Linked DNA regions of Homo sapiens. The protein of the gene in region 3 interacts with the protein of the main gene of each other region in a biochemical or structural test. Each region holds a gene or a part of one and is shown on either strand. Other genes may lie near its edges.

Region 1 (7,029 bases), on a different chromosome or scaffold from region 3:
CTGGAGTGCAATGGCACGATCTTGGCTGACTACAACCTCCGCCCCCTGGATTCAGACGATTCTGCTGCCTCAGCCTCCCGAGTAGCTGGGATTACAGGCACGTGCCACCACGCCTGGCTAATTTTTGTATTTTTAGTAGAGACAGGGTTTCACCATGTTGGCCAGGCTGGTCTCGAACCCCTGACCTCAGGTGATCCACCCACCTTGGTCTCCCAAAGTACTGGGATTACAGGCATGAGCCACCGAGCCCAGCCTCTTGTTTACTTTTTAAAAACATTCTCAAGGCCATGTGCAGTGGCTCATGCCTATAATCCCAGCACTTTGGGAGGCCAAAGCAAACGAATAAGCTGAGGTCAGGAGTTTGAGACCAGCCTGGCCAACATGGAGAAACCCCGTTTCTACCAAAAATACAAAAATTAGCTGGGTGTGATGGCGCATGCGTGTAATCCTAGCTACTCGGGAGGCTGAGGCAAGAAAATCACTTGAACCCGGGAGGCAGAGGTTGCAGTGAGCCAAGATCGTGCCACTGCACTCCAGCCTGGTGACAAGAGCGTGACGCTGTCTCAAAAAATCAACAAAAAACCTCTTTATAAAGTGAACAAGGCAGCTGATGTGGTGGCTCATGTCTGTAATCCTAGCACTTTGGGAGGAAGGAGTTCAAGGCCAGCCTGGTCTACATGGCGAAACCCCACCTCTACAAAAAAAAAAAAAAAACTAGTCAGATGTGGTGGAACATACCTGTGGTCCCAGCTACTCGGGAGGCTGAGGTGGGAGGATCACTTGAGCCCAGGAGATGGAGGCTGCAGTGAGCTATGATGGCACCACTGCACTCCAGCCTGGGCAACGGAGCAAGACCCTGTCTCAAAATAAAATAATAAATTGGCTGGCCACAGTGGCTCACGCCTGTAATCCCAGCACTTTGGGAGGCCAAGGTGGGCGGATCACTTGAGGCCAGGAATTCAAGACCAGCCCGGCCAACATGGCGAAACCCGGTCTCTACTAAGAATACAAAAATTAGCTGGGTGTGGTGGGGCGGGCCTGTAATCCCAGCTACTTGGGAGGCTAAGGCACAAGGATCACTTGAACCCAGGAAGCGGAGGTTGTAGAGAGCCAAGATCACACCACTGCATTCCAGCCTGGGCAACAGAGCAAGACTCTGTCTCATAAATAAATAATAAATAGAGAAGAAAATAATTTTTAAAATATAAAATAAAGGCCAGGCAGAGTGGCTCACGCCTGTAATCCCAGCACTTTGGGAGGCCGAGGCGGGCGGATCACGAGGTCAAGAGAGTGAGACCATCCTGGCCAACATGGTGAAACCCTGTCTCTACTAAAAATATAAAAATTAGCTGAGTGTGGTGGCATGCGCCTGTAATCCCAGCTACTCGGGAGGCTGAGGCAGGAGAATCACTTGAACCTGGGAGGCAGAGGTTGCAATGAGCCGAGATCATGCCACTGCACTCCAGCCTGGCAACAGAGCGAGACTCTGTCTCAATAAATAAATAAATAATATAATATAATAAAGTAAGATTGAGTTCCAGACTGGGAGTGCTGGCTCACACCTGTAATTCCAGCACTTTGGGAGGCCGAGGAAGGTGGATCACTTGAGGTCAGGCGTTTGAGACCAGCCTGGCCAACATGGTGAAACCCCATCTCTACTAAAAATACAAAAATTATCCAGGTGTGGCGGTGGACGCCTGTAATCCCAGCTACTCGGGAGGCTGAGGTAGGAGAATTGCTTGAACCCAGGAGGCAGAGGTTGTAGTGAGCCAATATCACGCCATTGCACTCCAGCCTGGGCAACAAGAGCGAAACTCCATCTCAAAAAATAAAATAATAAATAAAATATAAAATACAGTTCCAGATAAATGGATCTTTTGTGTGTGGTGTGTAAGTATATCCCCAATGTTGCGTGGGCTAGACTTATACTAAAAGAATTCTGTGTTAACCAGAACTCCAGTTTCACTGGGCATCCTGTACTGTGTCTGGAAGCCTCCCTCAGAGACAAAGTCACTTGCCATGGGTCACCCAGCAGGTTGTTAGAGCCTGGGATGGGGAAACTGAGGTCACAGGGTTGCAGGAGGTGGGGGGTGAGCGTGGGAAGAGGTAAACCATGTCTGCAGCAGAGTCTGACCCCTCGACTTCTCTCCCTTTTTCTCTCTCCCTCTTTCTGTCGCCACTGGGCCACTCAGTCCTGGTATCTGGGATAGCAAAGGTCTTCTTCCCTCGCCCCTTCTCCATCGTCCCAGGAATCCCAGGGGGCAGCACAGCCGGCCCCCGGCCCACGTTTTCGGTGGAAAATTAGAGTGAACAAGAACACCCCTGCCGACTCCCAGCCCGGCCAAAAAGACAAAACACATAGACGCACACACTCAGGAGGAAAAGAAAAAACAAAGGCAGAAGAAGAAGAAGAAGAAATAAAAACCCACCCAAGCAAGAAGACAAAAGGTAAAGACGCAACGTTTCCAACTCTCGGGACGCCAAGGCCGCAGGACTGGAGGGCCAGGCCCCGCCACCCCCACGGGAGACCCGGGACAGGGCGTCTTCCTAAGTTATTCATCTCCTCTCCGCCTGCTGCTCGGGAAGGACAGACGCCGGCCGCCCGCCCGCGCCCCGGAGGCCCTGGCTCTGTCCGGAGACCAGGTGAGCACAGCCTGGAGCCTGTGCCCAGGGCCGACAGGCGCGACACCCAGCAAGGCCACCTCTCCCCGGGCCCCCGCGCCTCTGCCGGACACGGACCGGCCCCTCAGCCCCCACCGAGGACGCAGCCACTGGGGGGAAAGGGAGACACAGCGGACCCCGGCCGGGCAGCGGAGACCGCAGAGGCGGGCAGGGTGGGGCAGGCGAGTGGTGTCGCGGGGGTGCGTGGCGCTTGCGAGCCCTGGCCAGGGGAGGAAGTGAGGCCCAGGCACCTGCTGCCCCTCGAGGGGGCCCTGCCTGCCGCGGGGCCTCCCCACAAGCCCCTCCCAAAGCGCCGGCCGACTCGCTGTCTCGCTGGGGACTCTTTCAGCCCTCGCGCCCGCCCGTTTGGGAGGAGAAGTCTCTATGCAATTGGCCCCGGCCCCTCCACCCCCCACCCCCGGCATAGGAGGCCCCCCCACCTCGCCCGGCTCACACCCCCAAAGGGAGGGACCCACATTGCACACACTGTAAGAAATGCACTTTCCGAGGAAGGGGATGGGGGAGCCCGGACACCCAGAGCTCCCCGAGTTGGGGGTGCCCGTCTGGAGCGCCCCCGTCAGCCCCTGGCGGTGGGAGGTGAGAGCGAGTGGTTTAAGTGCCTGATTACCACCACCCGCCCCCCCCTTTGTCCAGCTGGGACACGGAATGGCCGCGGGCCTCCTCCCCCTCCCCTCCAGCCTCTCCACCAGCCCCTCCAGTCAACCCTCATCGCCGTGCCCCCCCAGAGCTAGAGAGATGGGGCCCCTGCGTGGCCCGAGGGGCAGAGCTGGGCGTCACTTCGCAAGCGTCCTGCCCTGCCGGGGCGCGGGGGTGGGCTCTGGGGAAGCCGGTGCGCCCCCCACGCCTCCGCTGCCAGTGCCTTACATTCTGGAGCGACCCCCCTCCCTGGTGCCTCCCAGCGAAGGGGGACCGCCGTTTGCACTTTCATCGCCTACCCCGACGCGGGGCCCAGCTGCGGGACGTGCATCACGGCTGGGCCCCCAGAGGAGAGAGGAGGCCGACGCCAGCGGTCCCCGCTCGGAACGGGGAGGGTTTTCGGGGGGTTCGGCGTCGCACCTTGGGGCCCCCCGCAGCCGTGTAGGGGGCCTCCCATCTGCTAAGCGTTTTTCCGTTGAGCCGCTCCAAAAACACTAAGCTGGGGACGCCAGGTGCCCCCCCACCCCGGCTCCCTGGCCCTATCCACACCTCCACCCCCACCCCAGGATCGCCATCTTTAGGGGAGGCCTGGGAGGGGGTGTTAGGTGTTTTAGGGCCACCGAGCTCAAACACAAGGACCCCTCCCCGGCCCACCCAGCCCAGCCCCAACTGACCTCCATGCCTAGGGAAAAACTCCCCCCACCACTGCCCCCTCCCCCGACCCAGGCCAAAGCCAGGGCAGGTCTCCGGGTCTCACCTGCTCCTAGCCTCACCCCCCTGCCCCCGAAAACCAGACTCTCCTCCCAAACTAGCCTCAGGAGCTTGGCGAACCCGCTCGCTCCTAAAGAGAAAGACCCAGGACCCTCCCCCATCACCCCCAAGAGAGGTTCGCCATCCTCTGGCCTCGAGCCCTTGGTCCCTCCGTCCGTCTGTCCTCGGGGCCCGCTCCCCCGGTGGCCCTTGGGGATCAAAGCGTGGGCCGCTCTCCGGGAGGGCGGGCGGGGGAGGGGGTGGTCGGGTTGTGCCATTGGGGTGTCCGGAAGCTTCTCAGCCAGGGTGGGGGTCGTGGAGTGGGGGAGGGAGGCCAGCCGGGCTCCAGAGGGGTCAGGGCGCGACGAGAACCAACTCTTTACCTAACTTTGCATGGTGCTTAGTCAAGGACTCCTGCGACCTGGCTCCCGAGGTCAGCTGGCGGCGCTGACACACATGCATGGCAGACTATCCCTGGCTCTATCTCCCTGTTCCTCGCCCCCTCCACCCCCCACTTCCTCTTTAAAAAAAAAAAAAAAAAAAAAAAGATACAAGAAAAACCTTTAAAAAAATTCCATGTTTCCTAATTTGCACGAAATTTTCTACCACAAGATGTGCCTTGCCTTCCGAGAATAAGTATTACCTTTAAACAATATCAGCGCACACACATAGCTGCATGTTCTGCTCGTGTAGTTTAAAAAAAAAAAGACAAAACAGTGACATGAAATAAAAAATAAAAATTGAAAAGGGATGTATTTCTATTTGTAAAAAAAATAAAATAAAAAATAAGAAAGTGAGAATCTAAAAAAAAAAAAAAAAAAAAAAAAGGAAGAAAAACCACGCTAAAAATCAAGCCACTGAAAACAATTGCCCCCAGGTCTACCCAGCCCCTGGCTGTCCTTGGTCCTGTCTCCCCTCCTGCTGTATTCAGGGGTGCCCCCTGGTGCTCAGCCTCTACCACCCCCAACCCTGCTCTTGGGTACCCAGAGGGGTCATTTCTGAATCCCTTGCCCAGAGGACAGACCTCCGGGGCCCATCTTGGCCCTGGGAAAGGGCTCTCCTCTCTGATTGGTCCCTAGGCCACGGGCCGGCCCCCAGACACCATTCACCGACCCACTGCAGGCTGTCCTCCAACCATGGGGTGGCCACTCCACCCGCAGCCAGACTCCCCGCTCCCCACTTTTCATGCAGGCTGGCATACCCCTGGCTCAGGGTCAAATGCTGTTCCACACCCACCTCAGAGGCACCCCCTCTCCCCTGCCCCGTGCATCCCCACCCTTCTTGCCAAAGGACCTCTTTTCCCCTATCCAGAGACCACCCCAGGTGGCATTCTCTCCCACCTTCTCCTTTGTCCCCCATCCCCTGTCTCTGTCTTCCAGCTGTGAATATGAAGGGTATCCTGTATGAAACAAAAACAAAACCTGATATATGCAATATCTGTCTGTCTGTCTGTACCCATGGGCCTGGCTCAGCCATTGGAGGCCCAGCCGAGGGTCCGGCAGGGCACAGGGACAGCCAGGTGGCACCGAGTCACAGGCTGTGGTCCGGTGGCTGAGCATGCTGTTGTCTTGTCCTTGATTTTATTTTCTTTTGTTCTTTTTTTTTTTCTTTTCTTTTTGTTTTTAACTCCAGCTTCCTTTGCTTTTTACTTGACCAAAGCTAAGACAATAGCCAGATGGTTAGTGGGGCAGCCAGGCAGGGAGGACCCAGGGCTGGGATTCTCCAACCTTAGGCCATTCCTGCAGCCCTCACCACCTCCAGCCCCTCCAAGCATCTCGTGTAGGGACCCACGCAGATGGTCCCATTCATTCACTATTGCCCCCAACCCCGGGATTTTGGGTGGTCTCCACAGCCACCATCATACACTCATCCCGTGTTTTCTTCCAAAAAGTCACCTCAGCAGCCTCCCCAGGCGATACAGAGGGAGAGCCCAGACCACCACAGCTGGCCACGACATTGCCCTTAAGTAATATGCATTGGCCAGAGAGCCCGGGCTGGCTGTGCACAGCATTCATGTAGCTGATTTCTAGCTTTTTTTTTTTTTCTGCCCCACTCCTGAGCAAATCTGTCTTGCCAAGGAACTAGGAGCAACCGGAGGCAAAGGGAGTGGGTGGCCCCATCACTATTGGGACCATCGCGTCCCTGCACAGCCCACACCCGGGGGCCCAGAGTCCTGGGCTGGACGCCACCCTTCTCACCCCGAGCTTGCCTCCTTGGCTCACTTGGCACCTTGGCTGAGTACAGCAGGCAAAAGCCCATACCAGGCAGCATGTTGTGGATGGTTTAGTTCTCCCCGCCTCCCTGTTTCTTGGAAAAGCTACAGGGTCCCTGTAGGGCAAAATTCCCAGGCGCCTTGCTGCAGACAGAGTAAGACAAAAACACCAGGAAGCAGGATTCCGTGCCCATCTCTGCAGTTTGGGTTCACAAAAGGGGGTGCCGTCATCCCTGGGTGGAGGAGGGAGTGTTGGTTTTTTGTTTTTGTTTTTTTAACATGTATGAAACTGACATCTTCTCAAATCTTGTTCCACCCCCCTCTGGAAGCCCCCATCACCCACCCCTGCTATGGACACCACACCTATGCCAGGCCCCCCCCCCCACCCCAGTCTCATTCTGGGGTCTGCCCATGCTGTGGGAAAGAATAGGGAGGCCTCCCAAATATATGCAAATTGTCCCCATTCCGTGGGGGCACCTGACAATGACCCGGGTGGAGATGGGGCATGGAGGAGTAGGAAGACCCAGCCCTATTTGACTGGGGAGAGGAGGATCTGGAGTCCTTCATGCCCAGGTCTGGAACCCAGGTTCTGACCCCAGGGCCCCACCCTGGGCTGGACAATCAGATCCCAAAGGAATGCCAAAGGGGACTCGGTTGGGAGAGCCGCTTAGGGGCCAGACCTGGGTCCCCCTGCAGGTCCCCAGGCAGCAGACAATTCCACCTTCCCTGCCCCAGGACCTTGAGAGACA
Region 2 (7,985 bases), on a different chromosome or scaffold from region 3:
AGCCAAGAATATACCCCACATCATTGCCCCTAAAAGGGACTATCTTGGTGACCCACTACCTACCACCCATGCATCTTGCAAAAAAAACAAAAAACAAAAAAAAAACACCCGCAGAGAAGTACAGACTCCATACAGAGTGCCCAAAAAACACAAGGTGCCCCAATGCTTAGCAACAGGGGACAACAGGGCAAAAAACAAAGACCAACATTTCAACGGCCTTCTCAGTTTTCCCAGCAAGGGGTAAAGAACTGGTGTAGTCTATTTTTGAAGAGACGTTAATAATACAGTGACGAACTTAGGAGGAAAAAAAAATTTAAAGGTTCTACCTGTGATAAAGTGGAAAAGAACTACACACACATACACACTCACATACACACTCACACACACACTCACACACTCACACACTCACATACACACTCACACACACACTCACATACACACTCACAAAAGGCCTGCACAGTGCACCCAGCACACAGTGGGGACCAGAAGAGGAGGTATTTGTTGAATGAATGAATGAATGAATGAATGAGCTCTCTCTGGGGAACTCTACAGCCGTTTCTATAAATTGTGTCCCCAGTCTCCTCATCCTCTTTGATTTCCGATCTAAATTGCCACTCTCCTCCCAATATCCCTTTCACTGCAATTTCCCTTCCAATTTGTGCCTTTATAGGGCCCTCTCCTCCTACACACAATTTTTTAAAGTGCATTTACTCAGCCAGCTAACAAACATTTTAGCACCTACCCTGCACAGCTAGATACTCACCCCATAAGTGGCCATGGGGGCACAGTCACTGCCCTGCTTACATTATGGCAGGTAATACAGTTATCAAACAAGTAATCACCATTAAAGGAATACAGTTAATCAAACAAGTAATCACCATTAAAGTAGGATGCACGTTGGGCCTGTGGTTCAGTCTATGAGGCAGAGGCAGCCTCCTGGAAGATGTTTTAGCTGAGAACTAAAGAGTTTTATCCCCTTCCATGAAGGTAGAGGAAGGAAAGTATTCCTGGCAATGGGCACATCACAGAACCCTTCCCTCCAAGCTGATGGGCCTGCCAGACCTCACTGCCAAGGGCCTCATTTATGTGACACTAACTCAGTGCCTGGCTATGAATAAATATTAGTTTAAAACAAACCAAACAACCTGCCCAGACAGGTATAGACAGGGTGAAACCTACACATATGTAGTACAGGTCAAGTCTAATTTTTTAAAAATAAAAGCTTCAGAACAAAAGCATATTCAGCTCTAACTGTATACACAGAGGCATGAACTTACTCTTGTGAGTGCTGAGATTTGACCTGAATCCAGGGTCAGGCTTTCCCACATGTCTTTAGCCAGCTTGCTGAAATGTGAAATTAGAAGCCTACAAGCTCTCCTTAAAGGAGACTGTCAGAAGCGGACCACAATGAATGTAGGGAGCAGGTGGATGAATCACCAGCACCATGTAAAACGCCAGTGCCTTTAAAAGCTACAGTAAGCCATCTAAATATAGATGAGAAAGAACGCAAGTGAGTAACAGACAAATGGTCTTACAGGAAAGCATTTTAAACTTGTGACAGCCACATTCAGCACATGTGGCTAAATATAAATATTCCATCACTGTTGCCATTCAGCCAACCGTCCTGAAGTAGCTTTCTCCAGCTTGGAACAACTAACACAGACAGGTATTTTGATTCCAGCGTCGTTTCCACAGGTCTTAAATGCTACATGGGTGATTGGTGTGGTTTCAAACGTGGCCCAAGTGACACTGCTATCAGCTACTATAACGGCCCCACCTCTCAAGACCCATGCGGAACAACCAAAGTTTTGTAAGAAAATGGCAAGAAGTGAAAGGAGGAACGGGAGGGTTAGCAGCCTTTCCTTGCAATGCCTCATCCTTCAATTCACCTATTCAGGTGGGTCATGAGCCTCTTTAGAGATAAAAAGCAAACTTTCTGTAAACAGGATGGAAAAGCTTTTAACTTCTGTCTCTAAAATGCAGAGCATTTTCAGTCTATGATTGGTACTTATGATCAACTGTGTGTCACTTGTCACCGAAAACCCAGAATATGAGTACAAGCTGATGTCAGGTTGCAGATGTCCGTGTCCCTGTTTAATAAAGAAAATGGGATTATTCACTATCTGACGCTTTTATCAGGTAGGCAGTAGGTGCACAGAACAAATCCAGCTAGTCATTCTCAAGAGAGGCACGGCGTTTGTCCAAGGTACCAGCTCAGATTAAAGACACTCATCCCTAGGGTTTATGCATCAACAGAGAATATGAGCCAGTCGTTCCCAGCAAGTAAACAACTGTTTGTGTGTGCCTCAGTTTCCCGATTCCCAGGCCGCCTCTCCCACAGGGAACCAACACACCCTATGAGAACTAGTCCGGCGCGCACGGCAGGGGCTACCCAAACACTTGTGGAGCGAATGGAGGAATGAATGGGCTCGGCAGGGACTCGCGAGGGACCCAAGTGCCGCACCACATGCCTCCTCCGCGGGCGAAGCGCCCTCCACCGACCGCGCCGCACGGCGCCCAGGGTCTCCCGCCACCTCTGCCCGGCCTGGCCCCGAGGCGCCTGGCGACAGCCTCCCCAACAAACGCGGCTCAGGTTTCCCGTCGCCTTCAATGCTCCTGGCTTAATAACCCTTGGCCCCTCGGGAGCCCGGCCCGTGCCCCGCGCCGCCCCGCACCTTCTCGCCCTCATCCGGGTTCTTGTCCGGGTGGTACTTGAGCGCCAGCTTCCGATAGGCCTTCTTGATCTCCTCCGGGGACGCGCTGGGCTTCACGCCCAGGATGTCATAGTACTGGGTCTCCTTCACCATCTTGTGTCTGCGGGGGGGGCGGGCGAGGCCGGTCAGAGCGCCCCGGACGCCCCTGCCGGCACCCTGGCCCGCGCCCCTGGCCCGCGCCCCCGCCGCCCGCTCGCGCGTCACGGTCACGGTCGCCGCCGCCGCCGCCGCTTGTAGCTCCCGCCCGCCCCCCGCCCCGCGCCGGACCGACTTCCACGCCTGGCTCCACCGCACTAGAGCCACCGGCTCCTCCGCGGCGGGTTTTATTCGGCGCCGGCGGAAGCTTCCGCAAGGAGACGGTGACGCCACAAAGGCCTAGAACCTTCGCGGAGGTTCCGGCGGCCCCGCGGCGGGTTCGCGGCCCAGACCCCCGACGCCCGTCCGGCGCGGCCCAGCCGCTCACCTGGGCTTCTCGGGCGTCTGCTCCTTTGGCTGCCCGTCTGATTCCCCGGAGCTCCAGCTCTGACTGCCGCCCCGGGCCATGGCGGGGGCCGGAGAAGGCGGCTTGGGCCTGGAGGGCGCCCTCCGACAACTGTCCCGCCGCCCCGAGGCCGCCCCCTTGCCCTTCCGTGGGTCCGTGGAGCCGGCTGGCTGGAGAGTAGGCGGCCTGGAGGGCTGTGTTGGCCGGAGCCCTGCGCCGAAGGGTGGGACTGGGAGAGCTGCGCCCTGCGGTCCCCACCCGGCCTCTCCCCGGGGGTGTGGCCGCCGTCTGTTCGGTCACAGCCAGGCTGCGGCCTAAGGTGTGCCTGGGATTGTTGCATTTTTTAGGGGGTTGGAGTGGGTAGGGGCCCTCTGCTGCCTCATGACTGCAAGGCTGAGGTGAACCTCTGGCCTTCCAGTTGAGGTACAGGGGTCCTTTGCTGGCCCCAGATGTGGACAGTATCCTCTCGAATGCCCACCACTGGGAACCCTTAAGTCCCTCAAGGTGAGCAGTGACGTCCCCCACATATGGGCAGTGACGCCCCCCAAGTCTGCCAAGGGCCGACAGTGCCCTCTCTTCTCCCAGAAGTGGGAAACTGCCCCCTCTCCTCTGCACATCATCAGTGAGCAAACATCAGGGCCCGACCAGGCTGTTGGGCCCAGTGTTATGCACAGGGGGTCCCATGGCCTGGACCCTGAAACGGCTAGGTGGCCCAGGATGCTTGCCTTGGAAGGGTACAGGAGTAGGTCCCGACTTCCCTAGGCTGCCCCCAGCTCCCAACGGGTGCTCAGGGAGTCCAGATCACAAACCGTTGCAGAAAAGTGGGCGTGGAAAGCAGGCCCCAACGCTATCACAGAATTGCAGGCCCCTGTCCCCTAGCCCTCCCTTGGCTTCTGCCAGGGGAACAGTTTGTCAGAAAGGGGGGTCACTGCTCACCTCCCTGGGATGCCCTGGCCTTGTTTTGGGTACTGTGGCTGAAGCAGGTACTACCTCTCCTCCATGTGTTCCATGGGGGTGAGAAGTGACTTGTACTGTACAAGAGAAATTAAGCTGCTCTTCTTGGAGATGTTGCTTTTTTTTTTTTTAAATTATGCCTTGTAGAGCAGAACCTTTAGGCAGAGAACTCAGAGCTAGAGGTCAGAAACTTTGTTTTCTATCCAGATCTTACTGTCTGAGCCTTAGCATCTCAACACTTTTCTTCGTCAGCAGGACATGGGGATTGCCACTTGCCTGCCTTTCTCACAGGGCTCTTATAAGCATCAAATGGGATGATAACTGTGAAGACTCCTAGCGCAGTGGGTCTCAAACCTGGCTCCTGACAGAGATCACCTGGAATCTTCTAAAAATCCCTCTGGGTTGCACTCCACACCTGTTACCTTAGAGCTTCTAGGGGTGAGGCCCAGGCATCAGTGTTTTTCAAGCTCCCCAGGTGGTACAGCCAGAGCCGAGATCCACTGCCCAGGGTCACATACTTGTCCAGATTTAGTACTCGGGACCATAGGCATTCGTAAAATGGGCATGTGCAGGAGAGGGATGGCTTAAAGACAGAGCCTAGAAACATAGAATGGAGCTATGCACTTTGGACGACAGTGAATTCTGGAACCAGTGAGACTTAGACCTAGGTTCAAATCCCAGCACTGCTACTTCTGGCTGTGGAACCTTGGGCAGACAACTTAACCTTTCTGAGCCTCAGTTTTCTTAACCTTTTAATGAGGATATTAATTATAACTACTTCATAACTTTGTGAAACACCTGGTATATAGTCACAATATTGATGCTTTTTGGGGGTGGGGGGGTGCGGGCAGGGGCTAAGGTATAGAAGCTGATAGTGATTCTCTTCTTGATGGAACTTAGCCAGGCTCCTATGAGCCCTCTTCTCAACTAGGCTTCAGTCTTGGCCTATAAAGACTGAACAGACAGCAACACAGTTTCTAATAATTCAACGTCACATCCTTAAGATCACCAGTTCCCAGGCTTTTTGGCACCAGAGACCAGTTTCATGGAAGACGATTTTGTCACGGACAGGGTGGTGGGGGTGGGCAATAATTCTATGATGAAGGCCTGGCGTGGTGGCTCACACCTGTAATCCCAGCACTTTGGGACGCCGAGGTGGGCAGATCACTTGAGGCCACGAGTTCAAGACCAGTCTGGCCAACTTGGTGAAACTCCATCTCTACTAAAAATACAAAAATTAGCCAGGGATGGTGGTGCTCGCCTGTAATCCCAGCTACTCAGGAGGCTGAGGCACAAGAATCGCTTGAACCCGGGAGGCAGAGGCTGCAGTGAGCTGAGATCACACCACTGCACTCCAGCCTGGGTGACAGAGCAAGACTCTGTCTCAAAAAATAAAAAATAAATAACAATAGGATTGTCTAGTAAAATCAGATATTTTTGGCCAGGTGTGGTGGCTCAGGCCTGTAATCCCAGCACTTTGGGAGGTCGAAGTGGGCAGATCACTTGAGCTCAAGAGTTTGAGACCAGCCTGGCCAACATGGTGAAACCCCGTCTCTACTAAAAATACAAAAATTAGCCAGGTGTGGTGGCACGTGCCTGTAATCCCAGCTACTCAGGAGGCTGAAATAGGAGAATCACTTAAACCCGGGAGGCAGAGGTTGCAGTGAGCTGAGACTGTGCTACTGCATGCCAGCCTGGGCAACAGAGAAAGACTCTATCTCAAAAAAGAAAAAAAAATGGAGGATGAAACTGTTCCACCTTAGATCATCAGGCGTTAGATTCTTATAAGGAGCATGCAACCTAGATCCCCCGCATGCACAGTTCACAGCAGATTTCAAGCTCCTGTGAGAATCTAATGCCACTGCTTGGTTCCTGACAGGCCACAGACCAGTACTGGTCCGCAGCCTAGGAGTTGGGGGCCCCTACCTAAGGTGACCCTGGCCCCACTACCCCCTCTTAAAGTGCCTGCCTGAGAAAACTCAAGGCTGCCAAAATATTTACTGTGTTTTTGTTTCATCCAACACCTGAGGATAGAGCTTCTGTCTCCCAGTCTCTTTGGGAGAACGGCATCCTAACTTTGGCAATTGGCAGCTAGCAGACACAGCTGGCCTAATGTCACTTACACTGACCAACCCTTTGTCATTTTTCACTTCCCTGATTCTGTTAAACTGCTGCTTGTCCTTCTCCCTATTCCCTCATGTTCTTTTCAAAATGCCCAATTACTTTTCGTACAAATCGATATTGAGCTCAGTTCATACTAGATTGTTTTCCCTATTGCAATAGTTATGACTGATTAAATTCTGTCCTTACAATTTTAACTACTGTTCAGCTTTGTTTATCTTAGACAAAGCCTCTGACAATCTAGTAGATTATTTCCCAGAATTATGCTTGGGAGGATTGGAGGCATTACACAGACATTTCTTATTTTGTCAGTTATGTGTTTATTTTCATGATGACCTTTTCATTACTGCAACTTTTATTAAAAGTGACACTGACTTTCCACTCACAGTAAGCAATGTATGGTTTCCTTTTTATATTCTTTTAAAAAAGAGTAGATAAATAGTAAGTGTATGATAGTACCTGTAGTACAAGAATAAAGCAACAGTGGTGATACTTGAATGACAGAAATTTGGGAAATGCTGATCCAGTTCTACCATCTCATTCTACAGTTGGGGAGACTTTTAGACAAAGAAGCCACATTATACAGAACAGCCATTGTCCCTTGATGCAGTGTGGGGCTTCCTTTCTGACCCAGTGTAGAAGGAGAGTCAAAGCAAGCACGGAAGTAGGTTTTACCCAAGGAATGCTGGGATGGGGTCTTCAAGGAGTCTTCTGAGAGGGAGAAGCCACACCTACCTGGGGAGGGGGGTCAGGAAGGACTTCATGGACGAGGGACATGTGCCATAGACCAGGAAGTTAGAGCTCCCTTTAGCAGCAGGGAAAGGGAGGGCAGCCATGCTGAACGGACAGCAGGATAAAGGCAGAGAGCACAGATGGATGAAGGCTCTGAATTGGAAGGGAAGCAGGGACAGGTGTGCTAGAGCCTTGAATGCCTTGAGGAGCAGTTTGCTGCTCTCCTGGGCCCTGGGGAGCCATTGAAGGTTTCAGAGCAGGACCTGCGTTCTGAGAGGTGTAACTAGCAGCAGACCCCGGGGGCTGGGTGGATCTGGACCTCCTGGGAGAGGCCCAAGCTGGGCATGCCGGTTTGTAGAGGCAAGCCCAGAGAGAGGGCATAGAAGGAGAAAGAGAGCTCCAAGGAAAAGCGTTGGGGAGCGCCTGTCTTTAGGAAGTGGAAGGAGCAACAGCCATCGGAGAAGCAAGAGGAGAACCCAGAAAGCAGAGAGGACCAAAATCATGCAAGGCCAGAGCAGCGAGGGGTAGAGGAGACAGTGCCTGGGTGGCAGAGAGGCTGGGAATGGGGGGGACCAGTACTTCAAGGGGAGGACATTAATTTATTGGCCCCCGAAACAGCAGTTGTCATTTCAGGCCATTGTTTTAATATTGGGAGGGATTTCCACTTGGAGAGGCCTTGCCCCTCACTGGCTGTGTGACCCTGGGCAAATTAGCTTTCTCTGAACATCCATTTCCTCCTTTGCAAAATGGGGATAAGAACATCTGCTTCACAGAATTATTGTACAGATGAATGGAGACAATGTGTAAAGGGCTTACCATGTGCAGAAAGCACGTGTTCTCACGATGAAATTTATTGATTTCATCACAACAGGATTTGTGCACAGCAGCTATGTGTCTGGCTCTGTGCTGGGAACCAACAATACAGCACTAGATTAAGGTTATGCCTGTCCTCGAGGAGCTCAGAGACTAGCTGCACCTCAACA
Region 3 (7,029 bases):
AGGGGCCAGTCTGCAAGGACACATCCTGTAGATGGCTAATTGATGATGCCCTATTGTTTAGTGTGTGTGCACTGTGGTTTTATTTGCTTCGGTTCAAAGGGCCTAAACAATGCATTCGTTGGAATTTAGTAACTGCTGTAAAATCAGCACAGAGAACAATCTGTGAGCTGATATTTTTTGTACCCAAATCTGGTAATCTCTGCTTGACTAAAGAAAGCAAAATCTAAAATGACCTTTCAACTAACCATAGAAAAGGCCTTCCATTGAATCTCAAAGAGACTTATTTTTCTACCAAATATAAAAACATTCGAATTATGCATCATTTTCCATGATTCAAAGGAGACAGAGGTGCCTACGGGGCATGTTACTCATAGACAAGTCTATTCTAGTCTAATCACGTCCCCTTAAAAATCACCGAGTAGATGACACCGAGGATGAGAACGAGGTACTGTAATCATTACTTTAGAAACTTTATATTTTTACCTGTTTCAAGACAGAATTCTCCTAGAAAATCTGGAGCAACAAGCTTATTCCCCTTGGAGAGGAGATAACGAATAATGGACCACGCATTCGGAGAGAGGAAGTTTCCACTGGGAGCCCTTCCTGCATCAGTGCGTCTCTGGTTGGGCTGGCTATCTGTGTAGGAAGTGAACGCAGGAAGTATCTGTCTACAAACCCTTTATCCTCAAGGTAATTGCTGTAGCAGCATTTTACTGTTTACCAAAGCAGTAAACATGTGATCTAAAAAAAGATGTTTTCCATCTCCAGAAGAACAAGGCTTTAAAAAATGTATACATGTGCTTATTTTGTAACCAGCTTATCAAAATTGGTTACAATAGGCTTGGGCTTTCAACAGTGAGTCCATGAAAACAGCTCTTGGGATGGACAGAGGTACCCTCACAGGGATGCACAAGAAACAAAGAAGTGGCTTCCTTCACTAGAATGCTATCCTAGCAACACACATTTTATGTCTTTTCTCCTAAGACCGGCTTAACCGAGTTCATACTGTTTGGCTTACAAAGAAGGTAAAGTCAACAAAACTATCTATGTTAATTCAGGTTGGTAGAATGAGTAATTCACAAAGTCCAATAACTCATAAAAGTCACTTACATTTGGCCTTGGACAATATTCTTATTTTTACGTGACTATAAATATGCTTCCAGTTTAGGAGTTCACACAAGACAAAGTGAAAAGTTAGAACTCAAAAGGAGATGTGTAGTGGCTGCTTTTGCTGACTTTTGCCTGGCGTAGGCCAAGCCTCCTGGTCCGTCTTTTCCTTTGTTTCTTTATTCCAGATCAAGCTTGCAAACCTGCACCGTCCCAGATTTCCTGGGGTAAGAGAAGTGATTGTCTAGGAGAGGCAGCTTGGAATGAATAAAAACAGGTCCAGGAAGGATCCCTCAGCATTTAAGAGGCTCAGGAGGGGTCCCCCTCATCATCCTTGTTGTCTTTTGTGTTTTTCAAGCCGCCTTCCAGGTGGATAGCGATTGCAATGAGAGAGAAAGAGTATGGAAGGAGAATAAGAAGAATAGGGAGACACAGAAGTTAACAACGCCCTGAATGTCTCCTTCCAGGACCTGCTGTGCAGTGTCCGGTGAACTCACCAGCAAGCATTTCCCAGCCCTGTTTTAAGCAATCTCCAATGCAGATCAGGTGCTCGTGAATAATTGGGAGCTCACTGTGTCTGTCAGAGTTCTTACTTTATAATGAAGAGATAAAAACATGTTCATCACAGGAAAATGGACAAATTGGCTAATTGAAAACAAAATTCAATTCACAAACTGTTGTAGAAATTGAAAAAAAAAAGGTAGGGGGAAATGCTTTTCATAGATTCCCTGATTTTAGTCTTAGAAGAAAAATGTATTTGGCTTGAATGAATAGTAAAATTAACTAACTTTGATTGAGGAGCTTATGTGTGCCATATACAGTTCTGGGCTCTTGCGACTTGGTGAATCTCACTATAACCCTGTGAAGTAGGAACTATCACTCTACCCATTTCACCGATGGAAAAGCCTATCTCCTGTGAGGCTGTGGCTTGCCAAAGGTGAAATGGCCAGGAAGTAGAACAGCCAGGGAGTGAACCCCAAAAGCCAGGTGGGAGCCCATTTCCCCTGCCCACTGCACGAGACCCCTCCCCGGTTTGAAGATCCGATAGGGGCACTGCTGTTAGCTCCCCCTGCGTCCTGGCAGCAGCACAGTCAGCAGATGGTCACTGTGGAGAAGGCGGAGCTGACCACCTCCATTTTCCTATAAGGGAGCTAGGGCCAGGAGAGGTGCGTTCACCTGGGGAAGTCCTGCAGCATCAAACTAAAGCTCCGGGCCACCCTCTCCCAGATGGGCCTCTTTCCACTTCCCCTTGCCAGCAGCTATATCTATGCCTCCCATCCGTTGCACGGAAGATAAGGCCAATCCCTTTTCCACAGAGGCTATTTTAAGGATGCCACGAAGAAATACAGAGTACCAAGTGCCTCCCTGGGCCAAAGATAAAAGTGGGCTGTGCTCTCTGGATTCAACCTTCATGTTTTTGATGCTCTCTGGAAGGTCAGGGAAGGCACACATATCGTATGGATCCAAAGAGGACTACGCAATGCAAAACCACATACTTTTTTTTTCTTTTTAACTTGGAGCAATGTCTTGGGACATCTACCTCAAATTGAGACACAAACTAATTGTGTTGACAGATTCTAAAGTGTTGTTTCAACAGTTTCTTCTTCCTCAAAGGTGAGCATCATGTGCACACTGTCAAAATTAAAAAAAAAAAAAAAAAGACCCAATAAAACCCGATGAAACCCAAAGAGCATGGAGATGAGAAACTCACTGCTGGCTGACGATCTGAATGAATGGCCTTGGGGGGAATGTGAATGTGGAGGTAGCAGAAGGGTCCTGTCTTCAGTGCTGATTCTGTATCAATACTTGGTAAATTTAAAAAACAAAAAAACCAGCAAGGGAGATTTTAAATCATCAAGGCAGAAGGATTTAAAAAGTGGAATGTGTTAAATGCAAGAGTGCGGGATCTTTGCATAAAGTTATTATATTTTCAAAAATTCGACAAGCATTGTTTTTACCAAACGTGTTTAAAGTAACAGCCCTGAGGTTAATGTTATGATTGGATTCTGATGTGGCACTTTAAAAATAAATCATTTTGCTTGGCCTTAGCATTTCTTTTCAAAATGTCTCTGTACTTATCTGTGTACAACAGCAGATTACCGTTCTTCCCAGAGTTTAATTCCATGAACACCCTGCTGAAAGACTTGTTAAGGCCTTATGGAAAACTCTGACCTGCGTGTTCATTATTGACGCCCAAGACGAGTGCAAGGAAGTTGATACTTGGGATGAGGAAATTTAAATCAGCAGCTGATCTGGAATCTGGAAGCACTGCCCCTTGGATCTCGCCAAATATGGAAAGAATTCTTGTCACTGAGCAAATATAGAATTCAGTGCTAGAGTTTTACCTCTTGAATTTTCTAGAACTTTGTTTTGATTAGCCACCTAGAGTATAAGAATTGCTGCCTATGGGATTTTTCCCAGAAGAGTAGATAACATAAAGTAACCAGCGATAATAATTTTCATTATCCAATTATTTCATGTGTCTCCATAACACTTAATACATCATGTTTCTCTGCACAGTAATTCACTATGTACAGCTAGGGTGAATAGCAGGAAAAAAGAGATCAGATGATAAAGAGAAGGGAGACAGATTTGTGTGACTTGTATAAGATACTTCGCCTCTCTAATCCTTTGTCCTTATCTGTAAGAAAGCAGCAGTACCCAGGCTGCTGTGAGGATCACATGAGACATTATGAGAGTTTAGCACAGGACTTGGCACATAACAAGCAGTTATTAGGATGATGTTAGTTTGGATTATGAATTCAAGATACTACAGCTACATTTTTTATACTTTCTTAAACATCAATTTAAGTCAATTTTAATTAACGTTATTTTACTAGGAGAAATGTCTCTAAAAACATAAGAATTCTATTTGAAGTCTACAATGATAATTACATTACTCTGATATCTTAACTTCCTCTTTATGATTTCAAATAATTAAAATTTAAGTTTATGTTTTCAACAAGTGCTTATTGAACCTCTACTCTTTGCCAGTCACTGTTGAGGACACAGAAGAAATGGATAAGATATCACTAAAAACAGCTTCTGCGATATCAGTGGGTATACATAAATTATTCACACTCAACAACAAACACAAGCAAAGCTGGGAGAATGTGCTGACAGGAAAGAAAATGAAGAGTGGGAGAGTGGACAGATGGGAATCGATGTGAAATTTTATAAAACATGTCTTGGCCAAGCTCAGTAGGGGAAATATGTGGAAAGTAAGCTAGACCAAACAGAGAATAAAAGTATAAATAAGAAAAAAAATCCAGAGGTCACAGTGGACCACTAGCCAAAATGGGTTCACAGCAAACAAACAAAAAAATGTAATGAAATACTAAAATTAAAGAAGTACAAATAAAAATGAGATTCTGTTCTTATCTGTCAGAATGGCAAAGATTCAAAGAGTAAAATATTCAGAGTTGTTATGGGTGTAGTGTGGAACTGGTCTCATATGTGGCTAGAAAAAGGGAGAACTGGTATAATCCTTCCAGAGAATAATCTGGTAATTATTTTTTAAATTGGCAAATATTTAAATTTGGCAAAGACTTAAAAAATATATATACCCATTGGCTCAATAATTCCTTTCTAGGCACCAATACTAATAAAAAGTATTCAAAAAATTAAATAGATGGTGTACTGCAATATAATGAGTGAAACATCGCAAGCAGCATCACTTTATACACTAGGATATTGGTTATAAAATGGTAATACATATTTTAGATAGAATATAATGAAACAAAAATTTTGCTTATCAAAAAATGTTAGTAACATGGGAAAATGCTTGTAAAACAATGCTAACTGAGAAGAGCAGGACAGGTAGGTAGATACAAGGCCAAACAGATACACACGGTGGAGAGACATATCCCAATTGTTAGGAATTTGCTGTGGTTGGTTAGGATCTGAACAATTTATATTGACTTTGTGATGACTTTTAAACGTTTTCTCTACCATAAGAATTTTTTATGTTTATAATTTATGCTAAAGAACAAGATGTATTTTTTGTAATTCAGGAGTAAAGAGGAGAGTGGGGTATTCCAGGGTGCTGTTCCTGCCCTAACCAGGAGCACGATGCAGTCATAGGCCTCTGCCCTCCTCCAGCAGCCTCGGCTCAGAACAGGACGAAGCCAACCCTCTCTGACCAGCACCACCTCGGGCGACCCCTGGACGCTCCACCTGCCCCTGTGTGTGGTACCTGCCCTGCTACACCTTTAACAAGCACCCCTGCAAGCTCCCTCCTCCTTCCTTCCCTGTCCTGTGGCTGCCCAGACCCAGATGTACCCTGCCTGGGTGTGGGAGGCCGCACATCAGAGCAGTCTATGGCTGTGGGCTTCACAGCTGAAGCTGGGCCGTGGGAAATGTTGAGACGAGTGAGTGCAGAGCCTGAAAGACAATACGGTAGAAAAGGTTACATCCGCGGGGGGGCGTCTGATGGCATCTGCCATTTATTGAGGATGGGTGCGAGACAGGGTAGCCATTATGATCCCATTTTACAGGTGACGAAACTGAGATCAGACAGGCTAGCTACCTTGCCCAGGGTCACAACAGGAAGGAAGCAAATGCAAGTGTGTCTGCGGCCACGTAAGGTGAGAGAAGCGCTATCAGGGGTGGTCTGACAGAATCCCCAGGCCAGGGAGCAGTTGTCCTCTATCCTGTGGGGTCAAAGGAGGGGACAAGAAGGCTCTCCTTGAGGTAGCTCCAAAGAAAAGACCCCGCCAGAGCACAGTGTGCTACCAAACGCTGGAACAGCCTGGAGACTGTCCCTGTCTCTTCTCTGAGGTTTCTCATTTCAGAGAAACTCTCATCCGTCTGGCTTCCCCATGGCCCTTACTCTGTGATTCTCTTATGTATCAGCTGTTAAACCAATAAATCCGCCAAATTGTTGGGATGCCTATAATGGCTTTGGGTCTCCACTCCCACAGAGGGAATCTTATTCTAAAGTTCTAAATGTATCAGTCATATTTTCCTGAAGACAACAGAAATGGTTGTTTCATTTACTTATTTTTATGTATGCTTTTTCAAGAGTTGTTAACCTGTGTTTGTGTTTAAATAAAGATCTGTTTTGCAAAACAAAAACTTTATGAGATAATCACTTATAAACGTAGATAATTAAGAAATGGTTCAGGCTCAGCACATTGTCTGAGAGCATTGCAGTCCTGCACTGTATTTCATGGGGGAAGAAAAGCCCACAGATGGAGCCATTCTCAATCCTGCTTTCCAGGGTCACTGAGTCAGGGTGCCTGGCATGCATGGGTGCATGCACACACAGGCAGAGGGCCAGGGAGAACTGTGCTGTGTCCACAGAGGGCAGCCTGGATCACAGAGCTGACCAAGAACGGAAGCAGCAAGTTGTTTTAAAGTAGTTGCCTGTAAAGCCACTTTTCGGCAAGGACAAACACTCAGAGCATGCTCTGAAATGACTTATGCACAGCAGGGCAGCGGCATTTTGCCCCTGGCCTTCCTTCCATTCTCCCGGAATCCCCCTAAAGTAACAAGGACTGACGCAATTCGTATTTCACTTAGCCAACAGGTTGATGAAAAATCATAAATCTGTAGCTATTAAACTCATTAATCACATCCATCAAAATTCTGTGAGGAGTTAACTTTCTTCATATAACTCTTAGTCTTAATTAAGTTTCCCTCACATGTGATAGCAAACGTTCAAGAAGTGCAAATGTGCAGACGTGGCGTATATAATGCAAGCTTTATGTCTTTAAATTAATAAAATTGAGTCCTATCAGGTCGTGTTTCAATTACCATCAAACCTTCCAACCTCTGTTAATTCAAAAAAAAGTAACTTCTTTAGGCAAGTCATGGAAATAGCACTAGGGTGCCCTCAGGTCTCCACCAAGCCTTGTTAGTAACTTTCCATGTCCTGTCTGATTTTTAAGATGCTTTCCCCTGATGCTGCTGCCGGCTGCT
Region 4 (5,164 bases), on a different chromosome or scaffold from region 3:
TGGCAGGCCCTGAGGCAGGAGAATCACTTGAACACAGGAGGCAGAGGTCGCGGTGAGTTGAGATGGCGCCATTGCACTCCAGCCTGGGCAAAAAGAGCAAAACTTGGTCTCAAAAAAAAAGACTAATATTTTACAAATGTCTGAAGATAATGGGAAATGTTGTCAAGCTCAGGCTTTTGATGCTGTCATTTGAGAAGGGTATTAAAGATGTTTTATTTATTTATTTATTTTTTTTGAGATGCAGTTTCGCTCAACAGGCCCAGGCTGGATTGCGATGGTGAGATCTTGGCTCACTGCAACCTCCAACTCCCAGGTTCAAGCAATTCTCTCACCTCAGCCTCCCGAGTAGCTGGGATTACAGGCGCCCACCACCACGCCCAGCTGATTTTTGTATTTTTAGTAGAGACGGGTTTCACCATGTTGGCCAGGCTGGTATCGAACTCCTGACCTTAGGCAATCCACCTGCCTCGGCCTCCCAAAGTGCTGGGATTACAGGCATGAGCCACCGCGCCCAGCCTAAAGATGTTTTATTAATGTGGGTTGGAAAAGGAAAGTCTAAGCATGAGAAGGAGGAAGTGGGCTGTTAACGTTAAATATGAAAGGCTGTGTTCACTCACAATATGCCAGGAAATATTATTTCAGGTTCATCAATGAGGAAATTGTTAGAGTCCCTTTAAATTGGACATATCCTCATTGTTTAATTTCATAGAGCCTAAATTATCTAGGACCCTGCCCAGGCTAGAGTGCAGTGGCACGATCTCAACTCACTGCAATCTCTGCCTCCAGATTCAAGTGATTCTCCTGCCTCAGCCTCCCGAGTAGCTGGAACTACAGGTGCGCGCCACCATGCCTGGCTGATTTTTTGTATTTTTAGTAGAGATGGGGTTTCACCATGTTGGCCAGGCTGGTCTTGAACTTCAGACCTTAGGTGATCCACCCTCCTCAGCCTCCCAAACTGCTGGAATTACAGATGCGAACCACAGTGCCTGGCCTAACCCTCACTCTTGTGAGTTGTTTTTTTTTTTTCCCCTCTGAGAAACCAGATTTAAAACTAGGTAATGAAACAGTTCACTGATGGTAAATGGTAAAGGCTGCCTAGAGTGTGTGGAATGACTTTGAATCCTTAACTAGGAAACGGGGCTGGCAGGTTGCACATGTTTGCTCTTCCCAGATCTCTGCTCTGCTTGATTTTTACAATGGGGGAAGAAAAGGGTGTCTTTGTAAAAGACCCTTTGCTTTTATTAAACAAAAAAACAGCCTGCTTTGGTACATCTACTGATTCGTGATTTGAAAAATATAAATATGTGTCATATTTTATGCAGACGAGGAGAAGACCTTTTCATGTGTATGGACATACAGCTCGTTGAAGCACTGTGTGGCTTCCAGAAGCCAATATCTACTCTTGACAACCGAACCATCGTCATCACCTCTCATCCAGGTATGGGAACTAGGCAAGCTTAAACTTCTCTTTTCTATTCTAGTATTTTCCTTGTCTCCTGTTAACAAAGTGTAGTATAGGCACTGAGGGAAACCCATTGTTTTTCTTTCTCGGTTACATATCCTTCTCTGGGCTTAGATGAAGTTATAAGGTCTTGGCTCTCTTGTCAGCCCTTGGAAAACCCATAAGTGAAAGGTAACAGGATTGCTTTGCCACGTAAGTTTTACTCCTGCCAATGAGCTAGGACAGTGCTCTGTTCTTTATATTCCCTGCCTCATAAAAATGTGACCATACTTAAGGAAGAACTTGGCTTCAATGTTTTTAGGTCAGATTGTCAAGCATGGAGATATCAAGTGTGTACTAAATGAAGGCATGCCAATTTATCGTAGACCATATGAAAAGGGTCGCCTAATCATCGAATTTAAGGTAAGCTGTAATGTACTTTAAGAATACTTGAGAACAATTGGCTTACTAAAATCTGATAAAAAAGTAAAATTTCAGCCAGGTGCAAGTAGCTCATGCCTGTAATCCCCGCATTTTGAGAGGCTGAGGCAGGAGGATCCCTTGAGCCCTGGAGTTTTGAGAACAGCCTGGGCAACATAGTGAAACCCTGTCTCTTTAAAAAAACAAAAAAAAAAAAAAATTAAAATTTCTGAATGCCTCAGAACCTGAAACTTACATTTTTCCACAGCAAGAAATATATGGATCTGGCCACGTGCCACTGGCACACACCTATAATCCCAGTGCTTTGGGAGGCCAAGACAGGTGGATTGCTTGAGCTCAGGAGTTAAAGGCCAGCCTGGGCAACATGGCAAAACCCCATCTCTACAAAAAGTACAAAAATTAGCCAGGCATGGTGGCACACACCTGTAGTCCCAGCTACTCGGGAGGCTGAGGTGGGAGGATTGCTTGAGCCTAGGTGGTCAAGGCTGCAGTGAATCAAGATCGTGTCACTGTACTTCAACCTGGGTGACAGAATGAGACCCTGTCTCAAAAAAAGAAAAAAGAAAATTTACCTAATAACTACTTCTGTCATGTTGAGCATTCTTTGTTAACAAGTTGAGGATGGGGTTTTTTGCATCATTAATTGGATATTTAAAGATAGGTTGTGGGAAGGGTGTGTGGGACAAGTGGGTATTTTACTAATGAAAGGTTGTAACTGGCATCTTAAAGTTGAGAGGTGCTTTATAATAATTGCAGATTTCTTGGCAAAATAGTGTAATGCTTGATTTGTTAATAGGTATAAAGCAATCCAGTCATTTTCCTGAGTCTTAAATTGGCCTGTCACCATAAAAATATTAATTAAAACTTTTTTTTTTTTTTTTCCTTTTTGAGACGGGAGTCTTGTTCTGTCACCCAAGGTGGAGTGCAGTGGTGCGATCCTGGATCACTGTAACCTCCACCTCCTGGGTTCAAGCAGTTCTCCTGCCTCAGCCTCCTGAGTAGCTGGGAATACAGGTGCCCGCCACCACGCTGGGCTTTTTAGTAGAGATGGGGTTTCACCATATTGGCCAGGCTGGTCTCAAACTCTTGACCTCAGGTGATCTGCCCATCTCAGCTTCCCAAAGTGTTGGGATTTGTAATCCCAATTGTATGAGCCACCGCGCCTGGCCTAAAAACATCTTTGGTAAGGAAGAACTACCCTTTTGAGAGTAAGAATAGCTTTGTTTAAATATGTCGTAAGAAGGGTTAGGCTGTTGCAGGATGGGTTTTGGTATTAAAAAGTCAGTTTGCTGGATAGAACAATGGTTGTTAAAGTGCAGTTTTATTTAATACAATCATTTTTAATAAAGCCTGACTTCTGGTCATAATCCTTGAACTCTAGTTCAGAGTGTGCTATGCACTGTGCCTTTTTAGAGCCTGTTCTAACCTGAGATTGGCAGATTCACCTAAATATTACGTGTTTACATGTGTTTTTCTGGGGAAAATGGGTCCATGATACTCTAAGGGAGCTAATGATGAAATCAGATTGAACAGTGAAAGTTTCTTTTGAAGGTAAACTTTCCTGAGAATGGCTTTCTCTCTCCTGATAAACTGTCTTTGCTGGAAAAACTCCTACCCGAGAGGAAGGAAGTGGAAGAGACTGATGAGATGGACCAAGTAGAACTGGTGGACTTTGATCCAAATCAGGAAAGACGGCGCCACTACAATGGAGAAGCATATGAGGATGATGAACATCATCCCAGAGGTGGTGTTCAGTGTCAGACCTCTTAATGGGCCAGTGAATAACACTCACTGCTGGCATTTAATGTGCAGTAGTGAATGAGTGAAGGACTGTAATCATAATATGCTCACTACTTGCTCTTGTTTTTGTTTTAATAAACTATAGTAGTGTTTTAAAAAGTTAAATGAAGAATAAACGCAAATATAAAAGCTCTGATTTTGCCCTGTATGTATGATGACTTCAGTGTGCAAGATGAAGTTTAATACCTGTAAAAACTACAAAGAAGTTCCCCTAGCATTTCTAGGCCAAACCTTGTAATTGACTTCAGCTATGTACGTGGACAAGCTTAGACTGAAATGCTAGGTATATGTATTGGCTTCAGTGTATGACCCTTCATTGTTAAGCTATGAAAGTAAAACTCTGTATTTAACTGGCAATGAGGAAAAAAAAATTTTGTAGAGAAGTGTTGGTCTGTATAGTTCTTTATATTAAGTGGGATTCATTGTAATGCCTCTGCATTTATTCTGTTGCCTCAGCTGTTACTTGAAGATGGCGTAATATATAATTTATCCTGTGGTATCAGTGATAAAAATGATACCTTTCTGTAGGAGGGGTTTATCATAATATGCTGCTTCTTGAAGGCTTGCACTTCCAGAATTGTGTTTCCTTCTGCTGTGCCATTCATATATATATACATATATATATATAATCTTGACCAGTCCTGGTCATTTGCTCCCCTCCTTGTCTGTGGACCATGATAAGCCCAAGTAGTGACTTCAGAGCTGGGTAACAGAAATTAAAGTGAAAAGACCTTTACGTGGAGAATTTGCATGCGTAATATAGGAAGGTGTTCTTTAGGTATGTTACAGGATTACTTTAAACCATTTGACTTTCGCTCCAAAGTTATGTTGGTAGTATAGCAAATTATGATGAATAGCTTTAATTGTATGTTTAAAAGTCTCATATGTTCACATGCTTAAATCTGGGTATCAGAATTTAAGCAATTCTTGAAATGTATTGTCTCCTTAATATACTAATTACAAAGCATCTCCAATGTGTGTCACTACAGGCTTTTTTTTCCCAGATCATCAAATTTTGGCTTTTAACTAAGATACATAGCTTTATTTTAGCTAGTCTGAATGAGTGATACAAAAATACTATTGAACTATAGTTAAATAATATTAAATAGGATGGAGAGTAAAAGTGGAGGACTGGGTAATGAGCCAAGAAGAAGGGGACTTAGAAAACTGCAAACATTGGAGTGAGCATGAGAGAACAAGTTCTCATAAAGAATACAAGTTTAAAAAGGAGAAAAACTTTAAAAAATAAGGTTCCCAAACCATCAGTGTTTGTCAACTTCCTTTTAGTCTGTGCCAGCCACCCACAGCTACCCTAAAGTTGGAGATGTGAAGCAGATGTTCAGGAAAGTATAATTGATCGGTGTTCAAAAAAGTGCTTTGTGACAGATTTCACTTTTCACTGGGTTTATGTACAAATTCTAAAAATCTCTGAACCTGTATTTTAATGCATTTAAGAGCATTGTTTAGGCCAGGCATGGTGGC

What was found.
Region 1: the proteins of ERG (region 3) and NFIC form a complex in vitro, tested with the Homo sapiens proteins (one study listed by BioGRID).
Region 2: the proteins of ERG (region 3) and DNAJA4 form a complex in vitro, tested with the Homo sapiens proteins (one study listed by BioGRID).
Region 4: the proteins of ERG (region 3) and DNAJA1 form a complex in vitro, tested with the Homo sapiens proteins (one study listed by BioGRID).

Annotation. Positions count from the first base shown.
Region 1 is NC_000019.10:3,460,560-3,467,588, forward strand, and holds part of NFIC (nuclear factor 1 C-type), read left to right. Parts: intron 1-2,192; coding exon 2,193-2,210; 3' UTR 2,211-7,029.
Region 2 is NC_000015.10:78,259,586-78,267,570, reverse strand, and holds the start of DNAJA4 (dnaJ homolog subfamily A member 4), read right to left. Parts: upstream 3,010-7,985; 5' UTR 2,815-3,009; coding exon of another isoform or gene 2,808-2,814; coding exon 2,676-2,807; intron 2,091-2,675; coding exon of another isoform or gene 2,037-2,090; exon of another isoform or gene 1,934-2,036; intron 1,354-1,933; exon of another isoform or gene 1,329-1,353; coding exon of another isoform or gene 1,278-1,328; exon of another isoform or gene 1-1,277.
Region 3 is NC_000021.9:38,488,457-38,495,485, forward strand, and holds part of ERG (transcriptional regulator ERG), read right to left. Parts: intron 1-7,029. UniProt on the Homo sapiens protein: Transcriptional regulator. May participate in transcriptional regulation through the recruitment of SETDB1 histone methyltransferase and subsequent modification of local chromatin structure.
Region 4 is NC_000009.12:33,035,252-33,040,415, forward strand, and holds the end of DNAJA1 (dnaJ homolog subfamily A member 1), read left to right. Parts: intron 1-1,322; coding exon 1,323-1,438; intron 1,439-1,763; coding exon 1,764-1,864; intron 1,865-3,433; coding exon 3,434-3,652; 3' UTR 3,653-4,656; downstream 4,657-5,164.